Linked DNA regions of Homo sapiens: region 1 is linked to region 2. Evidence: fine-mapped expression QTL. Tissue or cell type: whole blood. Region 2 holds a variant in brackets; the other region holds the start of a gene. All regions are shown on one strand. Distances are between the middles of the regions. Region 1 holds the start of SP3 (Sp3 transcription factor). Region 2 overlaps SP3 (Sp3 transcription factor).

Region 1 (11,443 bases), 33 kb after region 2:
TGGCTAACACGGTGAAACCCTGTCTCCACTAAAAATACAAAAAAAAAAAATTAGCCGGGCATGGTGGCACACGCCTGTCGTCCCAGTTACTCGGGAGGCTGAGGCAGGAGAATGCTGTGAACCCAGGAAGCAGAGCCTGCAGTGAGCCGAGATCGCGCCACTGCACTCCAGTCTGGGCGACAGAGTGAGACTCTGTCTCAAAAAAATAAAAATAAAAATAAAAGTCACTTATTTTATTCCACTAAAGTAAAAATGAAGTAAATTAATAATCCACAAGTTCACATAAATGCAAACTGGTCAAAGTTAATACTTGCACAAAGGTCTACTTTTTTCTATTTCCTGGTTTACTACTAAAATTAGCCACAACTTAAGTACAAAGGAGCGTTGCTATAAAACCATCTTTCAGAGTCCATGTTGTACGACATTATATACGAGACTGCTTTATGACTAGACTTCTTCAGCAATGTACTGTGGGTAACCAAACACCCTTGGCTAGGATCCTCTTTTATGACAAATTCCAAATTCAAAATCCAAATATTAAAAGCAATCTTCAGCACAGTTGATTGGCTTTTCAAGGCCCTTTTAATCTCAAAATACCAAGCTAAACTGGCATAAAGTTCATCTGTATGTGTATATTTCCACTTGTTTAAACACAACAATATATATGCAATGTGGAATCCTGGACTGGATCCCAGAAGAGAAAATGGACATTAGTGGAAAAGCTGGTGAAACGCAAACAAAGTCTGGTTAGTAATGTCATACCAATGTTCATGTCTTAATTTGGACAAATGTATCATCATTATCCTAACATTAGGGGAAGCTGGATGAAGGGTATGAGATTACTCAGTTCTGTATTTCCAACTTTTCTATAAATTTAAAATTATTCCAAAATACAATTATTTAAAAACACAGCTATAACCTCTCATAATTCCCAGTCATTTGAGTAATAAAAGATTATCTAAGCCCATGAACTCATGTGAATTTCCTTTTCTAAGATGTGCTGAAAAGATGTCTTAAGTTCATATTTGCACTGGAAAAATAAATTTTTAGCAAATTTTCTATTTGCTAAGGCAAATACACACAAGCCAGTCTTACCAATTTTACTCAAAGTGAAAAATCTTGGGTGCAGGTACCAGACATCATAAATATATGGTTTGGGTTTTTTTTTTTTTTTTTTTTTTTTTAGGCAAAACTATTTTCATTTTACTATGATTGGCAAATTATGATGTATTTGATTGATAAATCTCAGATTTATCAGATTGATTCTAGTTCGTCTTCATGTGGCAGAATATGTGTTGTCAGGAGTGATTTGGTAATTCAGAAAAGCAGCTGAAGAAGCATGGAAACTTCCCTACAAGTATATGGCCACAGCTGGCTAAGGTTGGAGACAGTATTCTATCCTTGGGCCTCAGACTCACATATGTATGTACATACACATATTATTCACCCATATTTCCTTCCTTCTCCCCTCCCCCATCTGTAAACTGATATCTAAACTTTACAAATTACAGTTACAAGAAAAGTTTTGTTCCATTTGAAATACAAAAAAGATCAGGAGAAGCAATCTGCTTTTTAATTTTACTTATGCAGTAGTTTTTTAAGATACAGTCAATTTGTTTTGGCACTTTGGAACTAGAGGGATACAGTTCATAAAAAAATCTACCAACTCTCAGCGAAGCTGAAATGAGGTGAACAGAAGGCGTACCAATCCATAAATGTATTTAAAAATAACAAAGCCTAATATAATTTTACATTTTTACATGTTAATCTGCTTATGAAAAAACAAGACATTAAAACTATTCACATCCCCTATAACGAAGCACTAAAATTACAAATTATTTACCAGTAATAGCTTAACATTGGTTTAACTTAAAAAAAAAAAATACCTGGACATACTAAGCATTTGTTGTAGACTATACCAAATACCAAACTTCTGTCTTCAGTGACTATTGAAAGTATCACTCCACAAATCAATTCCTATGATCCACCACACACACACACTCAAATGAGGGTTTTCATTATTTTAATAGGTGAACAAATCTACACAACAGTGATGACCCAAATGTAAAATTCACAATTAACAGTCTAAAAACTGTTCCTATCCTATTGGTATTAACCCCTCATATAACACAGGCGAGCTCCTCCCCTTGCCCAGACACTGAAAACACTACAGAAAGAATCCCACCATATCTTACCTGACTAGCAGTCGTAATAAAATGAAAACATACTTTTGCCAACCAAATTCAGCTATAAGTATTGTACTACTAGTATGCACGTAAATACAATTCCTTACACATACTTTTCTAACACTGTTATATTCAGTTTCAAAATCTAAAGTACTATCTAAGCAACTTGCTGATTTCAAAGGCTGCTAAATGTTTCATTTACCCCCCTTACAAAAAAAAAGTCACTGCAAATTTTAGTAGTCTGCAAAAACTAAAATTCAACGATTTTGAATGGTCAACTAAAAAAGCAGTCTTCACTCCTGCATACAAAAGGGTAATTCAAAGAATAAACCCTCATTTTTTTTAATAATGTATGATTTAAAGCAGTAAGATCCTGTAACGTCCAACAGAAAATGCTCCAGGTTCAAAAATAATAAAAACTAAAGACATTGCCTCTAGTTGATACTATCTATGGCCGATAGGCTGTGCTTGAAAATTTTGTAGTGTTAAGCGAAGGAGTTTTCAGCACTGATATGAATTGCTCAAACATCCATTTTGGAGTCCTCTACCCCCGCCCTCTCAGACTTCATTTTGTGAAGATTTTGCGCGAGGTGCTGCAGTGACAATTTCGAGAAAGCCTGGGCTGGCTTCAGATCCAAACCGGGATGCGAAAGAGCAGGAAAGGGCGCCCTGGAGCCCAGCGGCCCGTGCGGGTCGGGGGAAGCGCGGGCGCCGGGGAGGCCTTTTGGGCAGGCGCGCCACGGGTCCGGGATGGCGGGCGCCCGGCCTCGGCGGGGGCGGGCCGCGCGCGGGACTTACCGCTCCGGCGGCGGCGGGGGCCCCGGCTGCGGCGGCCGCCTCCTCCTCGTCGTCGCCCGGCGATGGCGGCCCTATCTTGCTGCAGGTAGCGGCCAGCAGAGCGAGCGGTGACGGCTGAGTGTCCTACCCCCAATGGGCGGGTTCAGAGAGGGAGACAGGGGGAGGGGGTGGCGGTTAGGGTCGGGCCGCCTTTCGCACAGGAAGTACGACTCGGTCCCCGCCGACTGCGCCCGGGCAAGCGCCAGCCCGCGCTCTCCTCCTCCTCCTCCTCCTCCTCCTGGTCCCGCCGCCAGCCCACGCCTGGCGTCCCCCGCTCCAAGCACCCCGGCTCCCCGGTCCGCGGGCAGGCGGGCGGCGGGCTGCGCGCCGGGCCTCCGCCTTCCGCCCGGAACCCACCCCCGGGAGGGCACGCTGGGGCCCACACTCACACGCGCACAAAAAGGCGGCAGGCGGGCGAGGCGGGGCGGCGCGGGCGGGGTCGGAGCGTTGGCGCCTCGGGCGGGCAGCTCCCGGGGCGGGGGGAGGGGAGTGGAGGGGAGGGGAGAGACGAGGAGGGAGGGGTGAGGCGAGGAGGGAGGGGAGAGGCGAGGGGAGGAGAAAGCGGCGCGAGGGGGGAGCCGGGCCGGGGTTCAGCCGCTCCTCACCTGGGCCGCCGCTGCCGCCGCCACCGCACCGTTTCCGTGCTGTTGCTGCTGCTGCAGATACTCGCCGTGGCCGCCGCCGCCGCCACCGCCGCCGCCGCTATCCACGTCCAAGGCAGCCATTTCCTCTTGTTTCACGGGCTTTTCGGGAGCTGCAGGCACAGCGCGGGGGGGTGGGGGTGGGGAGGAAGGCGGGTGGCGGAGAGGGAGGGGGCCCGCGGGCCGAAGCGAAATTACTCCCAAAGCCCGGACCCAGGCCCCTTCCCCTCCCCCACCCGCCCCCCGGCGGCGGCGGCGGCGGCGGCTCCCTCCTCCCCTCCTGCTGCTGCCCCCGCCCGCCGCTGCCTGTAACCCTCCTCCTCCTCCTCTTTCCCTCCTCCTCCTCCTCCCCGCGCTGCCCCTGCCCCCTCTCCTCTCCTCCCCTTTCCCTTCGCGCCGCTCGCTCTCACTCGCGCTCGCTCCTCTCGCACCGTCAGTCACTCACACACGCCCGCCCGCGCCCGCACACAGGGGGATGCGCTCCCGGCGGACCGGGCCGCCCGCCCCGGGGCCTGGCGGGGAGACGGCGTTGCTGGGGCTTCGGGGGTGGACGGTGGCTGGCGGGGAGGGGAGGGAGGCGCAGGGGAGTGCAGCTTTCTGCCTCTCACAGACACTCGGTCGCACACACGGGGCCGAGACCGGCGGCAGCGGCCCCGGGCTGGCTGTGGTCGGCGGCAGCGGCGGCGGCGGCAGCAGCAAGGGTTGCTCTCTCGGCTTTACGTACCGGTCATAGTGTGTTTAGGGCACCTCAGGCGGGGCTCCCCGCCGCCTTACACATGGTGAGGAGCGAAGGCGGCGGCGGCGGGAGAGGATGCGGGAAGCGGCGGCGGACACGGCCGGAGCGGTCCGGGGATTTTTTTTTCCTATTTTGATTGACTGTGCGGGAAACACAAAAGGTGGAGCCTCCAGCCCAAAAGGGGGGAAGAGGGTGACAGCCCGCCCGGAACTCCCGCCCCTCTTCTTGGCTCTCATTCGCCGCCGTGCTCTTTGTCGGCTGTGCTCATTGGTCCAGGCGCCTGTCCGTCGGTCTGCCAGGCGGCGCGCTTCCTGTTTGCCCCCGGGTGGAAGGGGAGAGACAATGAGCGGCCGTGGCAGCGTAGGTTTTCGAGAGCGGCTACGGCTCGCCGGTTACCCCGCTGTGCCCGCCTCCCTCGCCGGCTGCCGCTGCCAGGCCCGAGGCGCAGGCCTCCTCCACCTTGCAGGCGCTCGGAGCAGGCCTAGCCAAGCTGTAGGGGAGCTGAGCTGGGGAGGAAATTCGTCCCCGGTGACTCCTGCTCCACTGGACGCTTCCTCCATCCCGGCAGCAGTCTTGGCCGGATCTCCCCAGGGCCTCGCGCTCTTGGAGCCGCCGCTTCCCTGCGCTGCCAGGAGGCCACCGCTGCTCAGCCCCGGGGCTGCTGCTGCGGCCGCTGCCGCTACTGAGCAAACCAGACCCGCCCCACGAGCCCGGGGGGAGGGAGCTGGTATTAGGGGAGACACCCCCTCCGAGGCTGGAGGAGGATTTTTCTCTCTCACATCCAGCTTCCTGATTCAGTCACAGCCATCTCGCTCCCAGCCCCCTTAGCCCCAGTTTTCCAACCGGTCTCCCACTTTCACGTACCCTGAAGGCAGGCATTTAAAGCAAAAAAGAAATCTCAAGTCACCTCACATACGGAAGGAGAGTTTTAATTTTGGCCAGTGGCACCAAAACGGGCACTTAAAAGTATATTTCATTTTACTTGTGGTATGTGTATGTATTCAGTGGGGCAGAATTCTGTGTTTTAAAAAATCGGTCACATAACCATTTTGCTGCACAAACGTATTATTCCCGGCCTCTTTATCCTCTTGGTACCAAGTCAGATATCTCCTGAAATAAGCCCATCAACCACTGCCAACGTTTTTTAAAGTCGTGAACCGGTGAACTACCTTTTTTCCCCCATTGGAACATTTTTGTTGTATTTTAAAATCTTGTTTCTCTTACTGGATTAGGTTAACACTCCTTCCTTCTTTGGCATCCTTGGTATCTTGCTGTCATCCTGGGGGAAAATGCTCAGGTTTTAAGTGTGTGTTTTGCCAACTAAGAGACATCTCTCCCTGTTACCTTCAAGTATAGTTGCCAAGAAAGAAGTTAAATTCAAGAGGTGGAAACACTGTCCACAATACCTGTTTTTTAGAAATCTGGCTCAAGATTCAGTTTTCCCATTACTGTGATTATTATATTTTGTGTGATATGTGATGTGCTGGTGGATGAGGTTGTGAAGTCCAAGCACTTTAACCAGATTTTGTGTGTCCTAACTTAATAGGTAATCCATTTGTGAGATACTGAGTTTACATCCCAGTTCCAAAGCACTTAACCGCCTATGCTGACAGGATCAGAAACATTGTATGGTTACTTTGCTCTTAATTGTACAAAGATCAAATTTCCAGGGAATTAACCTAAAAACCACAAACATGCGGAAACGAGACTCAAAATTCTGAGTCCAAGAATAGGGTTCATCTCTTCTAATAGTCCTTGTAGTCTCATATTTAAGTGGAAAAGTCACTTTCAAAGTTGAGTCGTATAACCTATGTACTATTTTACAACAAAAACTTTTAAGGAAATAAAAGTCACAAAATAACCTGATTTGGGGTGGGGAAAATGGAAAAAGAGATGGGTGCCTTGAAGAGCGGGACAGGTGAAAATAAGTGGACTGGGAGGGAGGAAGGGAAGTCACTATTATCACTCTGTTCCTACCCGGATCTCTTGGGTGGAAGGTAGCTCTTTCCCTAGAAAGGATATTTCAGGCATTTTCAGTTTTGTTTTGTTTTTTTTTTCAGGAGTGGGGATATGTTCTACGCTATCGCCATACCCTTTTTGCAAAGTGTTAGTCCAGCCACCTTGAGAGCAAAGTACTTGGCCACAGGAGTTAAATTCGTTTCTTCATTGATACCAATTGGCAAATGATATGAGACATGAATTGTCTTTTTTCTTTCTTTTTTGGGGGGTGGGGACGGCACGTCCGCAGACCATTTTGACAAGCAAAAAAAACACTTCTGAAAAAGAAAAAAATAGCCTAGCTGAGCGTGGTGGCTCACACCTGTAATCCCAGCACTTTGGGAGGCCAAGGCAGGCAGATCACTTGAGGTCAGAAGTTCGAGACCAGCCTGATTGCCATGGTGAAACCCCATCTCTACTTGAAATACAAAAATTAGCCAGGCTTGGTGGCGCACACGTGTAATCCCAGCTACTCAGGAGACTGAGACGGGAGAATCACTTGAACCTGGGAGGTGGAGGTTGCAGTGAGCCGAGATGGCACCACTGCGCTCCAGCAAGACTGAGACTGTCCCAAAAAAAAAAACCTACCTGAACTAACTATACTGCTTTTGATGCGATGCTTTTAAGAGATACATATGGAGGTAGGGTGACAGAGGTTGGTTAATTGGTACAAACATACAGTTAGATAGAAGGAATAAGTTCTAGTGTTCAATAGCACAGTAGGGTGACTATAGTAAATAGCAATATATTTTATATTCCAAAATAACTGGAAGGGAAGATTTGAAATGTTCCCAACACAAGAAATGACAAATGTTCAAGGTGACAGGGGAGAGGGGGCGGAAAAAAAATGTCCAAAGTGATAGATACCCTAAACACTCTGATTTGATCATTACAACACTGTATGCATGTATCAAAATACCACATGTACCCCATAAATATGTACAAATATGTATCCGTTTTTTAAATTTTTTAACAAAAGATGCATATACCAAAAGCATCACTCACTACTTTAGTCAGATTCAGAGAACCCTCTTAGACCACACTTGAGTTATTGTCATGGAATAGCTTTTTAAAATGGCTGGAAATGAAGATAGTCTCTTGAAAGAACACCTTTTCCTACCTATTTCAGTATTGTAGTCAAATCTTGAAATACAAATTTTTTTTTTCAATGGCATGGTCTCGGCTCACTGCAACCTCCGCCTCCCGGCTTCAAGTGATTCTCCTGCCTCAGCCTCCCCAGTAGCTGGGATCACGTAGCGCCCGCCAGCATGCCTGGCTAAGTTTTGTATTTTTAGTAAAGACAGGGTTTCACCATGTTGGCCAGGCTGGTCTTGAACTGCCGACCTTGTGATCCGCCCGCCTCTGCCTCCTAAAGTGCTGGGATTACAGGCATGAGCCCGGCCGAAATACAATTTAATTAAAATACTTATTTTCTTATTAGAAAGCTGCCTCTCAATGGCACCTACTGCTACATTTACATAGTAACCCAAAATTGCAGTTGCTTAGCAGGGAGAGAATCACAGTGCTGGATATTATTTATACTTTTTCTTCCAAAACGATTTGAGGAAGTACTGTGCTGGCCATTGTTTACATCATATTAGGAGATCTGGATGTCACTTTCTTTTCCCATATCCTCGATTTCCTCACTTTTTAAAATGTCATGTGTTTTTGTAAGTTTTCTTAAATCCTTTGGAAATGTGATGACGGTGAAAAATCCCTGAAGGCTTCTATACACCTGTTGGCATGGAATATTTTGCAACCCGTTTCTTCCCTACAAACAGAAGAGACAACTAAATACGGTTTGATCTACATCTGCAAGAGCCTAGCCATTCAGTATTAAAAAGTGATGGCCCTGGTTGACGGTACCACACCTGAAGACCTATGCCCTTTCCTTCACACTCCCTACTTCTGCATTTCTTCCCTCCTGAACGTCTATCAAGTGGACCATATGAAATTGCCAGTATTCAACTGTTTTTTATCTTAAAAGGTGACAATTCTATATCATTCAACCTAAATTAATGTCTCAAGAACATAACCTTTGTTTCTATTATTGTGACCTTACTTTTAACCATCCTAGAGCTCTTTAACCTGTTCACACTGGATTTCAAGGATCTTAAGTTGTTCTACTACATAATCACTATCACACTTCAGAAACATTTTAGTTTACATTAAATACACTTAACCCCCTCATATTTCATCTCTTCCTTTCTCAAAAATAGTAATAAATAACCTCAAGCCATTAAAGTGTGATGTCCTTAAATGAGGAGCAACAACCTTCAGCATGGAGTGTATTCATACTTTATGATTCAATTAGATAATAGAATTTGTTTATTTTCTTTGGTCATATAAACCAGACATAAACAACAACTAATCTCAAAAGAGTCAATGATACCCAAAGCCTAGTTAGAGAAGGTAAGAGAAAGGGGAAAAAAAAAATGATGTGGTTAGGAGAAGGTTGGATAGAACTGTAGAAAATATTGAAGGCAGCTTTTACCTGCTTTAAGGAACAGAATTTTTCGAGTTCCCCCTAAAATGGCTGAGTGCTGCACCATGTCATCACTCCATTCCAACCAAACAGCTGGAATAAAAAATGCAATTATACACACACATATATATGTATAATCTATACACACATAAGTATATATGTATAATATATGCATTAATATATAAACAGAACAATCCATAATTAATTAAAAGAGATGACCATCATGGATAAATCTCAATACTGTGTGAAAAAAGCCTGGTTATAGAAGAATAAATGTTATGCTACTACTGTATTTATATAAAGTTTTTAAATGTACCAAATTATATTCTATACTATATATGGATATATACATATGTAGTAACACTGTAATTGCAAAGGAATGGTGTGCTAAATTTAAAACGGTGATTACCCTTGGTATGAAGAGGAGAATGGCATTTGAATGAGTTTCCCATGGGCTTTGTTTACATTTGCAAATTTAACTTAAGCTAGGCTGAGTGTATTATTATTGTATTCTCTATATTGTTCTCCTTGCCTGAAATACTATGAGCATTATTTTAAACTAGAAAAAAAAAAAAGTAACTGATAGGAGAAGTACTGCAGTAAGTATGCCCAGGTAACTGATCAAAGGGCTGGAGGCAAAAGAGAATGATTCAAATATACTAAGTTTCCCAGCTTTTAGTAACTGGAAAGATGAACTGAAGTAAAGGATCTTAAAAGGGCATGAGTAAGTGGTGGGCCATTATGAGTTTGTTCTTAGATGTGCTGAGCTGGAGGTGCTAGCAGGACTTCCATGAGATGGATAGCCAACAGACTGTTGTCAAATTGAGTTTAGAGCCACAGAGAGAAGCAAGGGCAGGCTTGGGTTTGGGGACTCTTACCATCTTCACAGGCCTTTGTCCATTTGTCTTCAAACATAGCTATGTTTGAAGATAAACATTCCTTCCTATCTTTAAAAATCCTCCATGTGACTGTGGTTGTCCCTAGCTACTATCTTTTTTCTTTCCTCCCTTTCCTTGTCCAAAGTCTCAGTAACTTGCTGTCTTCCTACTGCCTTCCTAATATAATTCTACACCCAATTTCAGCATTTGACACTGTAAATATTTCCTTCTTAACACTCTCCCCTCCCTTGAACATTATCAGCTTTCTGGTTTTCTCTCAAATATATATTTCTCTGTATCTTTACAGTGCAGTCCCATAAAAAGCTACCTGTGGTGATGGAAATATTCTTTGTGTGCACTGCCTATTACCATAGCCACTAACCACATGTGACCATTAGGAACTTGGAAATGTGGCTAGTATGACTGAAGAACTGAAGGTTTTTTTATTTTAATTAAAGTTAAATGTGAATGGCCACATGTGGCTAGTGGCTATCAGACAGTGCTGCTTTAGGGTTTCTTTTGTTTTTGGTTCCCCGAGCTTTTCTTCAGAAGCTGGAAACACAGCATTCTGCAATGTCAGCCCTCATCTCCAAACTCACTCCCAAATCTCTATCTCCTGTCACCTGAGTTCTTGTTCTATATCCTTTTTTTTTTTTTTAAAGACAAAATTTCACTCTTGTCGCCCAGGGTGGAGTGCACTGGCATGATCTCAGCTCACTGCAACCTCCACCTCCTGGGTTCAAGCGATTCTCCTGCCTCAGCCTCCGGAGTAGCTGGGACCACAGGTGCACGCCACCATGCCCAGCTAATTTTTTTTGCATTTTTAGTAGAGACGGGGTTTCGTCATGTTGCCTAGGCTGGTCTCAAACTCCTGACTGCAAATGATCCACCCGCCTCGGCCTCCCAAAGTGCTGGGATTACAGGTGTGAGCCGCTGCACCCGGCCATGTTCTATATGTTTAAGCACTGTGAATTCCTCTTGAATGTCTCACTTTCACCTCAAACTCAGAATGTTCAAAACTAAACTCATAACTTTCTCTACACAACCAGCTCCTCCTCCCCTCTGATGCTTCTGTCTGTGACAGTGAGGCCATCATTCTCTCAGAAGCCCATACGGGAAATTACCTTTGACACATCTCCTCCCTTCCCTCTCCCATAGGCAGCCACTTACCAGATGCTGCCTGCCAAGTTTTCCTGCAGACACTCTCAGCTACCTGTTCATTGAAATCACATTTATTGAACCCTGCTCTACAAGATGCTGCATGGTCCCTATCCTCAAGGAGTGGATATCCAGTTAAGAAACAAAATATAGGGCTGGGCACGGTGGCTCACACCGGTAATCCCAGCACCTTGGGAGGCCAAGGCGGGTGGATTGGGAGGCCGAGGCAGATGGATCACGAGGTCAAGAGATGGAGACCGTATTGGCTAACACAGTGAAACCCCGTCTCTACTAAAAATACAAAAAAATTAGCTGGGCATGGTGGCGGGCACCTGTAGTCCCAGCTACTCAGGAGGCTGAGGCAGGAGAATGGCATGAACCTGGGAGGCGGAGCCTACAGTGAGCCGAGATCGTGTCACTGCACTCCAGCCTGGGCGACAGAGAGAGACTCAAAAAAAAAAAAAAGAAAATATAGGCCAGGCACAGTGATGCATGCCTCCCAGCACTTTGGGAGGCAAAGGCAG
Region 2 (11,443 bases):
GTTATGATATCTTGAACAAAAATTTCTCCAGAATCAATTACACATTTACCTACTTTCCTTGGCAGGAAGCTCAGAACGTTATTTAATCTTTGTCTAATTATTCCAATTCATTATTAAAAGTAATTTATGGTATCAAATAGGCCCTAGAACACTGAACTAAAAACATTCATAATTATAGTTTTTTATTTCTTCTACTTGTTTTTCCTGCCTTCTTCCCAACTCTGGTGATATCAACTCTCCATCCTCCACCTCCCAGGTTACCGTACCCATCATCCCTTCTACTGTACATTTTCTAAGCCAGTTTTAAATTTGGAAAGCAGTCGGAATTGTTAAAACTGTATATAAACATTAAATAAATTAGGACTAAAGAAAGGATCTAAGGCTACTCTTAAGAAACTCAAACCCTTCAAAATGAAGATGGCCACGGCAGGTATATCTGCTTCAGTACAGGAAATTTCAAACTGTTAAGTGTCAGCAGAGAAGAGGGCCCCAGGCCCTCATGTAAGTCAGAGCAGCCCCATTAATATTAGTTTTATACACTGGAGTTCTGCCTAAGATGTCATTTGAGGAAAAGGCTCTGCTCTAGCACTGGACTAAAACTGATGTTTCTGCCACTGCTGCAATGGCTAGGGGGAAAACAACCAACCAACAACAACAAAAACACATGGTTTGGGGTTTTCTTCCTTCATTAAAAAAAAAAAAAAGCAGAACTGCCTGTAAATAAAATGATTCCGTTCCAACACTTTCTGCAGACTGTAAACAATCCTGAGTTGGTATCAATATAAATAGAAGAAAAAATGCTTTAAATGATCCACTAAACGACACCTATGTATTGCTTTGAACCCCTAGTTATTTACAAGCTTCATTGTTTTCTATTTTCCCGTGTCTGCTACCTAAATCATCTCTGCCGTATTACCTATATAATTAGAGGACCCTTAGTCACCATGTGGTTGGCTTTCACAAAGAATAAAAGCCAAAGACCTGGATCTTGGCAGTTTTAGAATTTATACATTTTTCTTTTGCCCTCCAATTTTTACATATTTGATTCAAACATTTATTGAACAACTATATTGAGCGAACATTTGTTGACCAAAATTATAATCTAACACATTAATCAGAATCAGTGAAGCTGTGCTACAGTAACATCAATCACAAAAGCTCAATGGCTTTGATACAACAAAAATTTATTTTTCACTAATTTCAAATGTCCAATTCAGGTTGGTAAGGGAGATGTGATCATGACAGTGCCTCAGGAGTCCAGGCTCCCCTTGATACATGCTTCCAGGCTCCACTTGATACATGCTTCCAAGGTTGCCTTGCCAAAGGTGAAAGAAAACGTGGCAAATCACATTCTGTTCTTTAACTTCCACTCACATTTTACTGGTTACAAAAAGGCACGTGGCCATGCCCGACATTAAGAATTAAAGGAAAGGGCAATTCAATGATTATTTTATGAAGAATCATGACTCCCTAGTCCCCTGCTGTCAAATATTTATTCTTCCCACATGAAAAAATACACCTGTCCCTCCATTCAGAAGGTAACCCAAATATCCCATCCAGTCTCAGCATCAAGATCAAAGGACAGGATCTGCGCTGATGGGGAAATCACCTCTATATCAAGTCCAGATGCAGCCCCTCTTCACAGAGACCTATTTATTAAAACAAGTTATCTACTTCCCTTCACACACACAATACACACTGACAGAATATAAAAAATGCTCCAGTTCAAAAGAAGAAAAGAAGACAACAGTCAGTAGTTCATAGCAATTCATAAGCCAGGCTGAACAGATTGTGCAAGGGCTCTCTGTCCTGGAAGGTGGGGAATGCTCTGACTGACCCTTGGGAGGAGTTTCTAAGTCTGCTGTTCTCTGTGCCTCTAGGTTCTGCCTTCTGGAAGGTTTTTCCTGGTCTGTTATCTTCTAACGCTACAAGTGAAGTGAGCATCAGAGAGTGTGACTCCTTAGCAGAGCAGAATTCTCAGCAGGCAGATAGGTCAGGGAGGTATGGGGCAGAGAGCAAGATCATTATGTATCAAGCAGTTATACTTTATTCAGACTTTTGTCTATGCCTCTCCCTGAAAAAATTAGAAGGCTTATCTATTTGATTCTATCCAATTCCAAGCGCCAATGTCCAGAACCAAAGCTTTTTTCTAAGATATGCCTCTTAGATTTACTACTTTTCTTTGCTTTCTTGCCCCATGAGACAGTGTGTCTATTTCTCTCTAACTATGGGTACCTTGAGTTTACCTGGCTTTAGCAGGGGTTCCATACCTTTAGTCTCTTTTCCCTAACCCAACTGAAAAGCAATTCCCTCTCAAGTTGGCCTTTACTCTGAATTACCTTAATCCTTTCAGACATTTTAACAATGGAAGTGATGGTCATAACCCTGACTGGATCCTACCAAAAGGATGAATTTTAATTATCTACTCAAAAGCCTTTTCAGTTGTGTCTCCTACTGATTGGAGGTAAGAAGCAACTACTGGTCAGGCACAGTCGCTCATCCCAGTACTTTGGGAGGCCAAGGTGGGAGGATTGCTTGAGCCCAGGAATTTGAGACTAGCCTGGGTAACACAGGGAGACTGCCTCTAATTTAATTAAAAAGAAAAAAAAAGGTGCAGCAGTAATTGCTTCTTCTAATCCTACAAATTCCCAAATTTCTGGACTCTGTATTGCTTTTCATTCATACTTGCAAACTAACCAATTATTTTCTAGCTCATCTCTTTCTTATAACACCTTGTCAAATGAAACCAGTACCAGTTAAAATACAATTTGTTTTCCAACCTTGTCCCAAAAGCTTCAAATGCATTAAATATATTACTTGCCTTCCAAGTTACTGCACGTTAAGTTTTATATAATAATATTGTTCTCTGCATCGTCATGTTTCTAGCATCTAACATCAGTTTCCTTGCTGCCTGATCCTCAGGCCAATGCCACAGTTGAAGTTTTTTGTTAGAGCATACTATTCCTTGTATAAATTTTGACTTAAGTGATGATAGGCTGTAATAATATAGGTGCTGTCTAATAGAAATACAATGCAAGCCACGTACGTTAACTTCAAATTTTCTAACAGCCACATTAAAAAAGTAAAACTCAAAGGTAAAATTAACTTTAATATATTTCATTTAACCTAATATAGACATACCTCAGAAACACTACAAATTTGATTCCAGACAAGTACAATAAAGCTAATATTGCAATTAACCAAGCCACACATTTTTTTGGTTTCCCAGTACATATGTTTATACTATACTGCAGTCTATTAAGTGTGCAACAGCATTATGTCTAAAAAAACAAAAAGTACATTAATTTAAAAAAACTTTACAGCTAAAAAATGCTAACAATCATCTGAGCCTTCAGTAAATCGTAATCTTTTTGCTGGTGGAGGGTCTTGCCTCAAAGTCAATTGCTGCTGACTGATCAAGATGGTGGTTGCTGGCTAGGCGCGGTGGTTCACATCTGTAATTCCAGCACTTTGGGATGCCAAGGCGAGCAGATCACTTGAGGTCAGGAGTTCGAGACCAGCCTGGCATTTTTGTTGTTGTTGTTTTTGAGATGGAGTCTCGCTCTGTTTCCCAGGCTGGAGTGCAGTGGTGCAATCTCGGCTCACTGCAACCTCCACCTCCCGGGTTCAAGCGATTCTTCTGCCTCAGCCTCCCGAGTAGCTAGGACTACAGGTGTGCGCCATCATGCCCGGCTAATTTTTGTATTTTCAGTAGAGATGGGGTTTCACCATATTGGCCAGGCTGGTCTTCAACTCCTGACCACGTGATCCTCCCACCTCGGCCTCCCAAAGTGCTGGGGTTACAGGTGTGAGCCACCACGCCCAGCCGGAAAATCTGTTGTTTAGTGTGGCCATTTTCATCAATGATCTTAGCTTCCGGATAACTTCTTGCAGCTTCTACATCAGCACTTGCAGCCTTGTCTTTATGTTATGGAAACAGTTTCTTTCCTTAAACCTCATGGACCAGTATTCTGCTAACTTCCAACTCTTTCTGCAGCTTCCTCACCTCTATCAGCATTCACAGAATTGAAGAGTTAGGGGCCTTGCTCTGGATTAGGCTTTGGTTTAAAGGAATGTTGTGGCTGGTATATCTGGCCAGACCACTAAAATTTTCTCCATATCAGCAATGAGACTGTTTTGCTTTCTTATCACGTGTTCACTGGACTAGGACTTTTAATTTCCTTCAAGAACTTTTCCTTTGCATTCACAACGTGGCTGTGTGGCACAAGAGGCCCAGCTTCTGGTCTATCTGGGCTTTCAATATGCTTTCCTCACTAAGCTTAATTATTTCTAAGCTTTTGACTTAAAGTGAGATATGTGCAATTCTTCCTTTCACTTGAACACTTAGAGGCTACTGTAGGGTTATTATCAATTTGCCTAGTTTTTTCTTTTTCTTGAGACAGAGTTTTGCTCTTTTGCCCAGGCTGGAGTACAATGGCGTGATCTCAGCTCACTGCAACATCTGCCTCCTGGGTTCAAGCAATTGTTCTGCCTCAGCCTCCCAAGTGGCTGGGATTACAGGCGCCTGCCATCACGCCCGGCTAATTTTTGTATTTTCTGTAGAGATGGGTTTCACCATGTTGGCCAGGCTGCACTTGAACCCCTGACCTCAACTGATCCGCCCATCTCGGCCTCCCAAAGTGCTGGGATTACAGGAGTGAGCCACCGTGCCTGGAACTGGCCTAGTTTCAATATTGTTGTGTCTCAGGGAGGAGGGAGGCCCGAGGAGAAAGATGAGGAAACGGCTGGTCGTTGCAACAGTCAGAACATACAACCTTTATATCAATTAAGTTCACCTTCTATGGGTGCATGGTCTGTTGTGCCCCAAGACAATTACAACAGTAACATCAAAGACCACTGATTACGGATCACTGTTAAGAAGTATAATAATAATGAAGGTCGGGCGCAGTGGCTCACGCCTGTAATCCCAGCACTTTGGGAGGCCAAGGCAGGTGGATCACGAGGTCAGGAGATTGAGACCATCCTGGCTGACACGGTGAAACCCCGTCTCTACTAAAAATACAAAACATTAGCCAGGCTTGGCGGTGGGGTCCTGTAGTCCCAGCTACTCGGGAGGCTGAGGCAGGAGAATGGCCTGAATCCCAGAGGCAGAGCTTGCAGTGAGCCAATATAGCACCACTGCACTCCAGGCCTGGGCGACAGTACGAGACTGTCTCAAAAACAAAAATAAAAAATAATAATGAAAAGGTTTGAAATATTCCAAGAATTGCCAAAATGTGACACAGGGACACAAAGTGATCACGTTCTGATGGAAAAATGGGGTCAACAGACTTGCTCAAATGCGAGGTTGCCACATTCTTCATTTTTTTTTAAGTAGTATCTGTGAAGCACAATAAGATAAAGCATGCCTATATATCCAAAGAATTAAATTTCAATCTTTTATCAATAATACAAATTATTCATGAAATGTTTTACATTCTATTTTTTATACTAAAACTTGAAAATTCAATTTGTATTTTATTACACTTACAGCACATCTCAATTCAGTCTAGCCACATTTCGAGTGCTTAATAGCATCACAGGGCTAATGGCTCCCCTATATAACAGAGCAGGGCAAAATTAAGTTGCAGTAACAACCCCTCAAATCACAGTGGCTTAAAACAAAGGTCTATTTTTTATTCACATCCATCATAAGTCAGCTGATGCTGCTTTCCTGACTTATGAATCAATGTTAATGGATCAATCACCATGACGTATTTCATTGGCCAAAGCAAGCTCCATGGCTACACCCAACTTCGGTGTGCCCATGAAGAGAACCAGAAATATTAGGAAGACAGTACAAATGACTAACATTTATAAAACTTTATATATATATATATATATATATATATATATATAAAAGTTATAAAGTAACATTTATAAAATCACAATTTAAAACTTTCAAACCGTTTTCAATAAATTCTACCTTTATTTTCCTTTTGCTCTGATATAACCCTGCTTCAAAAAGCAAATGAAATGATAAAGTGGTAGAGCTATACTACTTGAATAAACTACTTCCATTAACTAGATAAAACAGTAAATCTAAGACAAATAAAATTTCTTTACCATGGAACATCATTTGCCCTTCAACGAAATTCCTGAAGATTTAATAAAAGCAAATGAAAAGCGGAAATAAGAGTTGGATGTGGTGGTGTACATCTGTAGTCCCAGTTACTTGGAGGCAGAGGTGGGAGGATAGCTTGAGCCCAGGTGTTCAAGACCAGCCTAGGCAACATAGTGAGACCCCATCATTACAAAAAATTAAAACATAAAAAAATTAGCAAGGCACAGTGCGGGGCACCTGTAGTCCCACCTACTCAGGTGGCTAACACAGTAGGATCACATGAGCCCAGGAGTTTGAGGCTGCAGTGAGCTATAATCATACCCCTGTAATCCAGTCTGAGTGAGAGAGAACTTGTCTCTAAAAAAAAAAAAGAGCAAACACTTAATTGATTAGAATGGGAAAAAAAGCAAAAATGGAAACAGACATCAAATACCATTTTTTAAATTCATTTTGGCCATCAAGTACTTTAAATCCTCTTTAAAACTTTCTTACCAAGTCTTTTTGAGTGGTTACTGCTGTTGAAACAAGTATAGGCTGAAAGAAAATTAAACAGGAGTGAAAAAA[C/A]CAATTTATTTATAAAAAGTAGGGAGAAAGCAGGAAATAAATGACATAATGTTAATCAAAACTAAAGATATTTTCACCAATTTTCAAAAAGATTTCCTTACACCCTTTAAAGTTAACTTTCTGCCATTTATTAACACTGTAACAAAAAAGTCAATTGCCAGGCCTGTAACTCCGGCACTTCAGGAGGGAGACAGGAGGATTACCCAAGGCCAGGGGTTCAAGACCAGCCTGAGCAACACAGCAAGACCCCATCACTATAAAACATAAAAAGTAAAAAAAAAAATTAAATCAGCACTCTACTTATTTATCAACAAATATAAGGTATTACCTTCAAGGTCAAAAGCTTTGCTTTTACAGTTCTAAGGCTGAAACTCCTTTCTTCTAAAAATAAATACATTCTATTCCATCTTCACTTAAACATTCAAGAAAGAATTTTGGCATATAAGAGGATCCAAGGTAATGAATGGCTGAATTACATGAAGTAATGGGAATTAAATACTTTAAGTGGTAGAAAATAAAAAAGCATCACAAAGAAGGTCTTATGTAAATATAGCAGCAAATTTTGCTTAGGGAATAAGTGTACTGATATGTCGACTGGTATCAGATACCAGCAATTAATTCTTTCTTCCAAAACCTGTTTTAAAGTCGATGTTCTAGGCCAGGTGCAGTGACTCATGCCTGTAATTGGAGGCCGAGGCGGGAGAACTGACTGAGCCCAGGAGGTTCGGGGCTGCAGTAAGCTATGATTATGCCACTGTACTCCAGCCTGGGTGAGACAGTGAGACCCTGTTTCCAAAAATCATAAAGCTGGGTGTTCTAACTTATTAATGATCAGTCCAGGTTAAAAGAAGCTAACTTTTAAATAAAGCAGAGGTTATCACCTCTGCTAGAACTATCTAGAACTGACAGACAATCCATGTAGATGCTTTCCTGATGGAAAATAGTAAGACAAAACCAAAACCCAACCAACAAAACAATCAAAACCAAACTATCTGAGTGCAAACTAAACTTTACAATGCCAAATGTCAGGGGAAAGAGAAATCCTGTTTTCCTGTCACCCAAAGAAATATATTACCCACTAAAACTTTATTATCCTAAAAGAGTATCTCAGAAATGGTAGAAAATGTACACACTTCCTGCACGTTTTATGGTCCACACTCCACCATCCCCAAAATTTCCCAAAACATCTTCCTTTTTATAATTCCCCTGCTCAGTTTTATCAACTCTCCTGACTTCAACTGTGTCTATCAACCATCTCCTACAGAATTCCATTCCTTTGTCCTAGGCTCAGCCCTCCATCTCTACTAGCAACAATTATTTCAACCACAAATTCAATCCATTCCAACTAGTGTCATCTTGGAGTCCCCAGATCAGTTTTCCCCTCACAAACGTGCCAATGATATAACTTTAAAACAACGGATTCATCTCTTGTATTCCTGATAGCTAATCACCAACGGATTCATCTCTTGTATTCCTGATAGCTAATCACCAATCCTATAAAATTCATACTTTGAAATGTCTGGCATTCTTCCTTCCTTCCTTACTTTCTCCCTGTTTAAATAAAGTAGCCCCTTTTACCTTTTTTGTTTTTTTGGTTTTCTTTTGAAACGGAGTCCCGCTCTGTCACCCAGGCTGGAGAGCAGTGGCACAATGTCAGCTCACTGCAACCTATGCCTCCTGGGTTCAAGCAATTCTGTCTCAGCCTCCTGAGTTGCTCGGACTACAAGCACACGCCACCACACCTGGCTAATTTTTTTCTATTTTTAGTAGAGACAGGGTTTCACCATATTGGTCAGGCTGCTCTTGACCTCAGGTGATCCACCTGCCTTGGCCTCCTAAAGTGCTGGGATTACAGGTGTGAACCACCATGCCTGGCCCCGCTCCTACCTTCTTTAGTGCTAGTTTCTTCCCATTCCACTCTGTTCTGAAGGTTATGTCTTCCAAGCATTGATTTATTCACGTTATTCCTCTGTTCAAAAACTTTCAAAGGCTCCTTAAGTAAGGTTAAAAATAGTGCAACCCTCACCAATAGTATTCAGTGCTTTTCATTCTCTCACCATACTTATTCAAATGTGTCCTATCAGCCACCAGTCACCAAACTGCCCAGATTTCTATTCATGCTATAACAGCATTTCCCAAAGTAGTTCCTCACAAGTAACCCAATGAAATACTAATCAATACAGATGTATAATCTAAAAAAGAAAAAAATGCTGCTTCCTTTCCTTAAATAGGTTTATTTCCCACAGGATTTCTCAGAAACTTTAACATGCTAATAAGCATTTTTATAACATTTAATAATACCTATTAATATCTTACGAACCATTTTTGGAGAAACACTTTGCCTTGCCTCTATTCTTACCTTTTTTTTTTTTAAACCTTGTTAGTAAACATCTTCCTCTCATCTCTCTACCTATACAAATCTAGATTCCCCATTAAACTTCTCTCTTCTCTATTAGGTCTCCTGGAGCCTTTTTTGATTTTCTGTTCCTCTGAACTTCTACACAGTTATCTGTATCATGCAATTTAGTGACTTACTATATTGATTTATATTGCAGATCACACACTGATTTATATTGTTGATTACTACTCCATGTATCTATCTTAAATACTCCAATAAATCTGTAAGCTTCTTGAGAAAATGAACACATACATACTTCTACAGACAATACAAAAAAAGCACACAGTTGACTATTTACATTTTCACAGTAAGAAACTTGTTCACCCGCTCTCTCAAGTTCTTGAGCCTTTATTAACCCTGTGCCCAAACAAGGCTGCCAAATGAAAGCAGCAAAGACATTTATTAAAAATTTATCTGACTTTCCCCTTCATATGCAAGAAAAACCAAGAACACTTCCACTGCAGTTTAGTGTGACTGGTTATCCCCTGAAATTTATCAACTACCTTCTTCATTAACACAAGAGATAATGCAGGGAAATAGCCTAAACAGTCAAAACTTCATCTTCAAGGCTTTCACAACAGAACCATAAAATCCTCTTCCACTTGTGAATCAAGTAAGTATACAAACCCTGCCCAAGCTGTTACTATGAACAAAGCTTACTAACTCAAACATCACAGGAGATGTTGGAACCAAAATTAAAGTCCAATCTTACTTTATGTTAAATTTCTTGAAAAAAAATTTTTAAATAATTCTGATGCTCACTAAAGTCCGAGAAAAAAATGTTTAAAAAGAAGTTTTAAAATATTTTTTAATCCAAATTTTCTACTCATTAAAAACATGAGGCTAAAACTCACATTCTCAAAACCTTTTTACTCTAGAAAATCTCCAATATATACCAAAGTAGGAAAGCATAACAAACTCCCATGTACCCAACACCCAAATTCCACAAACTCTGGGACAATTCTATTTCATGTATAACCCAAACTACCTCATTTTGAAACAAATCCGAGATATAACATTTCATCTGCAAATATTTCATTATGTACTGCTCAAAGATAAAGAACTTACAAAAAATCTCTCATCATGTTATTCTTAGAATAAAAATACACTAAATCTACAGTGTTAAAAAATGACTTTAGGGCAAGTCATTTAATTCTCCTAAATTCTCTCATATGCACGTAAGACTAAACCTAACGTTCCTCTTGCTTCTCTTAGTTTCTTCCCCCACAGGTTTATATGTTGGCTTCTGAAACATAATTCTTAATGTCAAGAGTTTTTAAAAAGCTACAAATTTAACACAATTACAGAATTGGTAGAGGTATGAAACACAGAATGCAACTATCACATCTGAACAAAGTTATAATCCCAGCACTTTGGGAGGCCAAGGAGGGTGGATCACCTGAGGTCAGAAGTTCAAGACCAGCCTAGTCAACATGGTGAAACCCTGTCTCTGCTAAATATACAAAAATTAGCCGGGCGTGGTGGTGGGCGCCTGTAATCCCAGCTACTCGGGAGAGGCTGAGGCAGGAGAATCACTTGAACCTAAGAGGCAGAGGTTGCAGTGAGCCGAGATAGTGCCATTGTGCTCCCGTCTGGGCAACAAGAGCGAAACTTTGCCTCAAAAAAAAAAAAAAAAAAAAAAAGCAACCAAACAGGTAAAATTTACATTACACATTTCCACACAAATCTACGTTTATTCTGTATCTATTATTGGCATCTCTTCATTTTATCCATCAAAAAAAAGAATGCAGAAAAAAAAAAGATGAGTAAGCAATGACTGCCCAATCCCAAAACAAGAAATACATGTTAGCTATAATACAAGACAAAGGACAAGTGCTATTAAACAAGCGGTAATTCAAAGGTGGCAAGAAGAAGGGAAGGCTGCGGGATAAGGCAGTATCTGGGCTAAGTCTTGAAAGATGTCAACCTGAAGGTTACTCCACTATTCCTGTTTCTAAAGTGCTGTGGGGTTCAATGTTAATATACCATTTATCACATTATACTAGAATCATGTGCATGTCTGTCTAACCCAATGATTCTTAAGGGGGAGATGAAGAACTGTCCTCCAGGGGACATCTGGCAATGTGTGAAGCCATTTTTTTTATTATCACAACTGCCTGGGGTACAGAGTGCTACCAGCATCTAGTGGGTAAGTCAGGAATGCTCCTCAACATCCTACAATGCAGAGGACAGCCCCAAAACAAAGAATCATCAGGCCCAAAATATCAACAGTGCAGAGGTTGAGAAATCATAGTCTAACTTGTTAGATTATGAGCACCTTTAGTGCAAGAATTATCATATTCATCTTTGTAATTCCAGTATCTGGCATGCACAGCAAGAGCGCTGTAAGTTATCTGTAGACTCAACAGACCTCAATTTAAAGGTAATGGAAGAGCCAGTAAAGACTTTACAGAAAG

What was found.
Region 1: it holds the start of SP3, and the variant in region 2 is fine-mapped to the expression of SP3 in whole blood (TOPMed, PIP 0.91).

What each region holds. Positions count from the first base shown.
Region 1 is chr2:173,960,777-173,972,219 of GRCh38, forward strand. It overlaps SP3 (Sp3 transcription factor), which reads right to left and starts at 4,597. Exons shown (of 7, transcript NM_003111.5): 1 at 4,389-4,597; 2 at 3,629-3,777; 3 at 2,985-3,107. The coding sequence starts at 4,395. RefSeq lists enhancers at 2,288-3,111, 3,112-3,934 and silencers at 2,795-3,044, 3,175-3,664, 3,995-4,274, 4,775-4,844.
Region 2 is chr2:173,927,814-173,939,256 of GRCh38, forward strand. All of the region lies in intron 4 of SP3 (Sp3 transcription factor), which reads right to left. Among named protein-coding and RNA genes, the nearest start is that of SP3, 32 kb to the right of the region's middle. The variant C/A (reference allele first, on the strand shown) is at 6,629.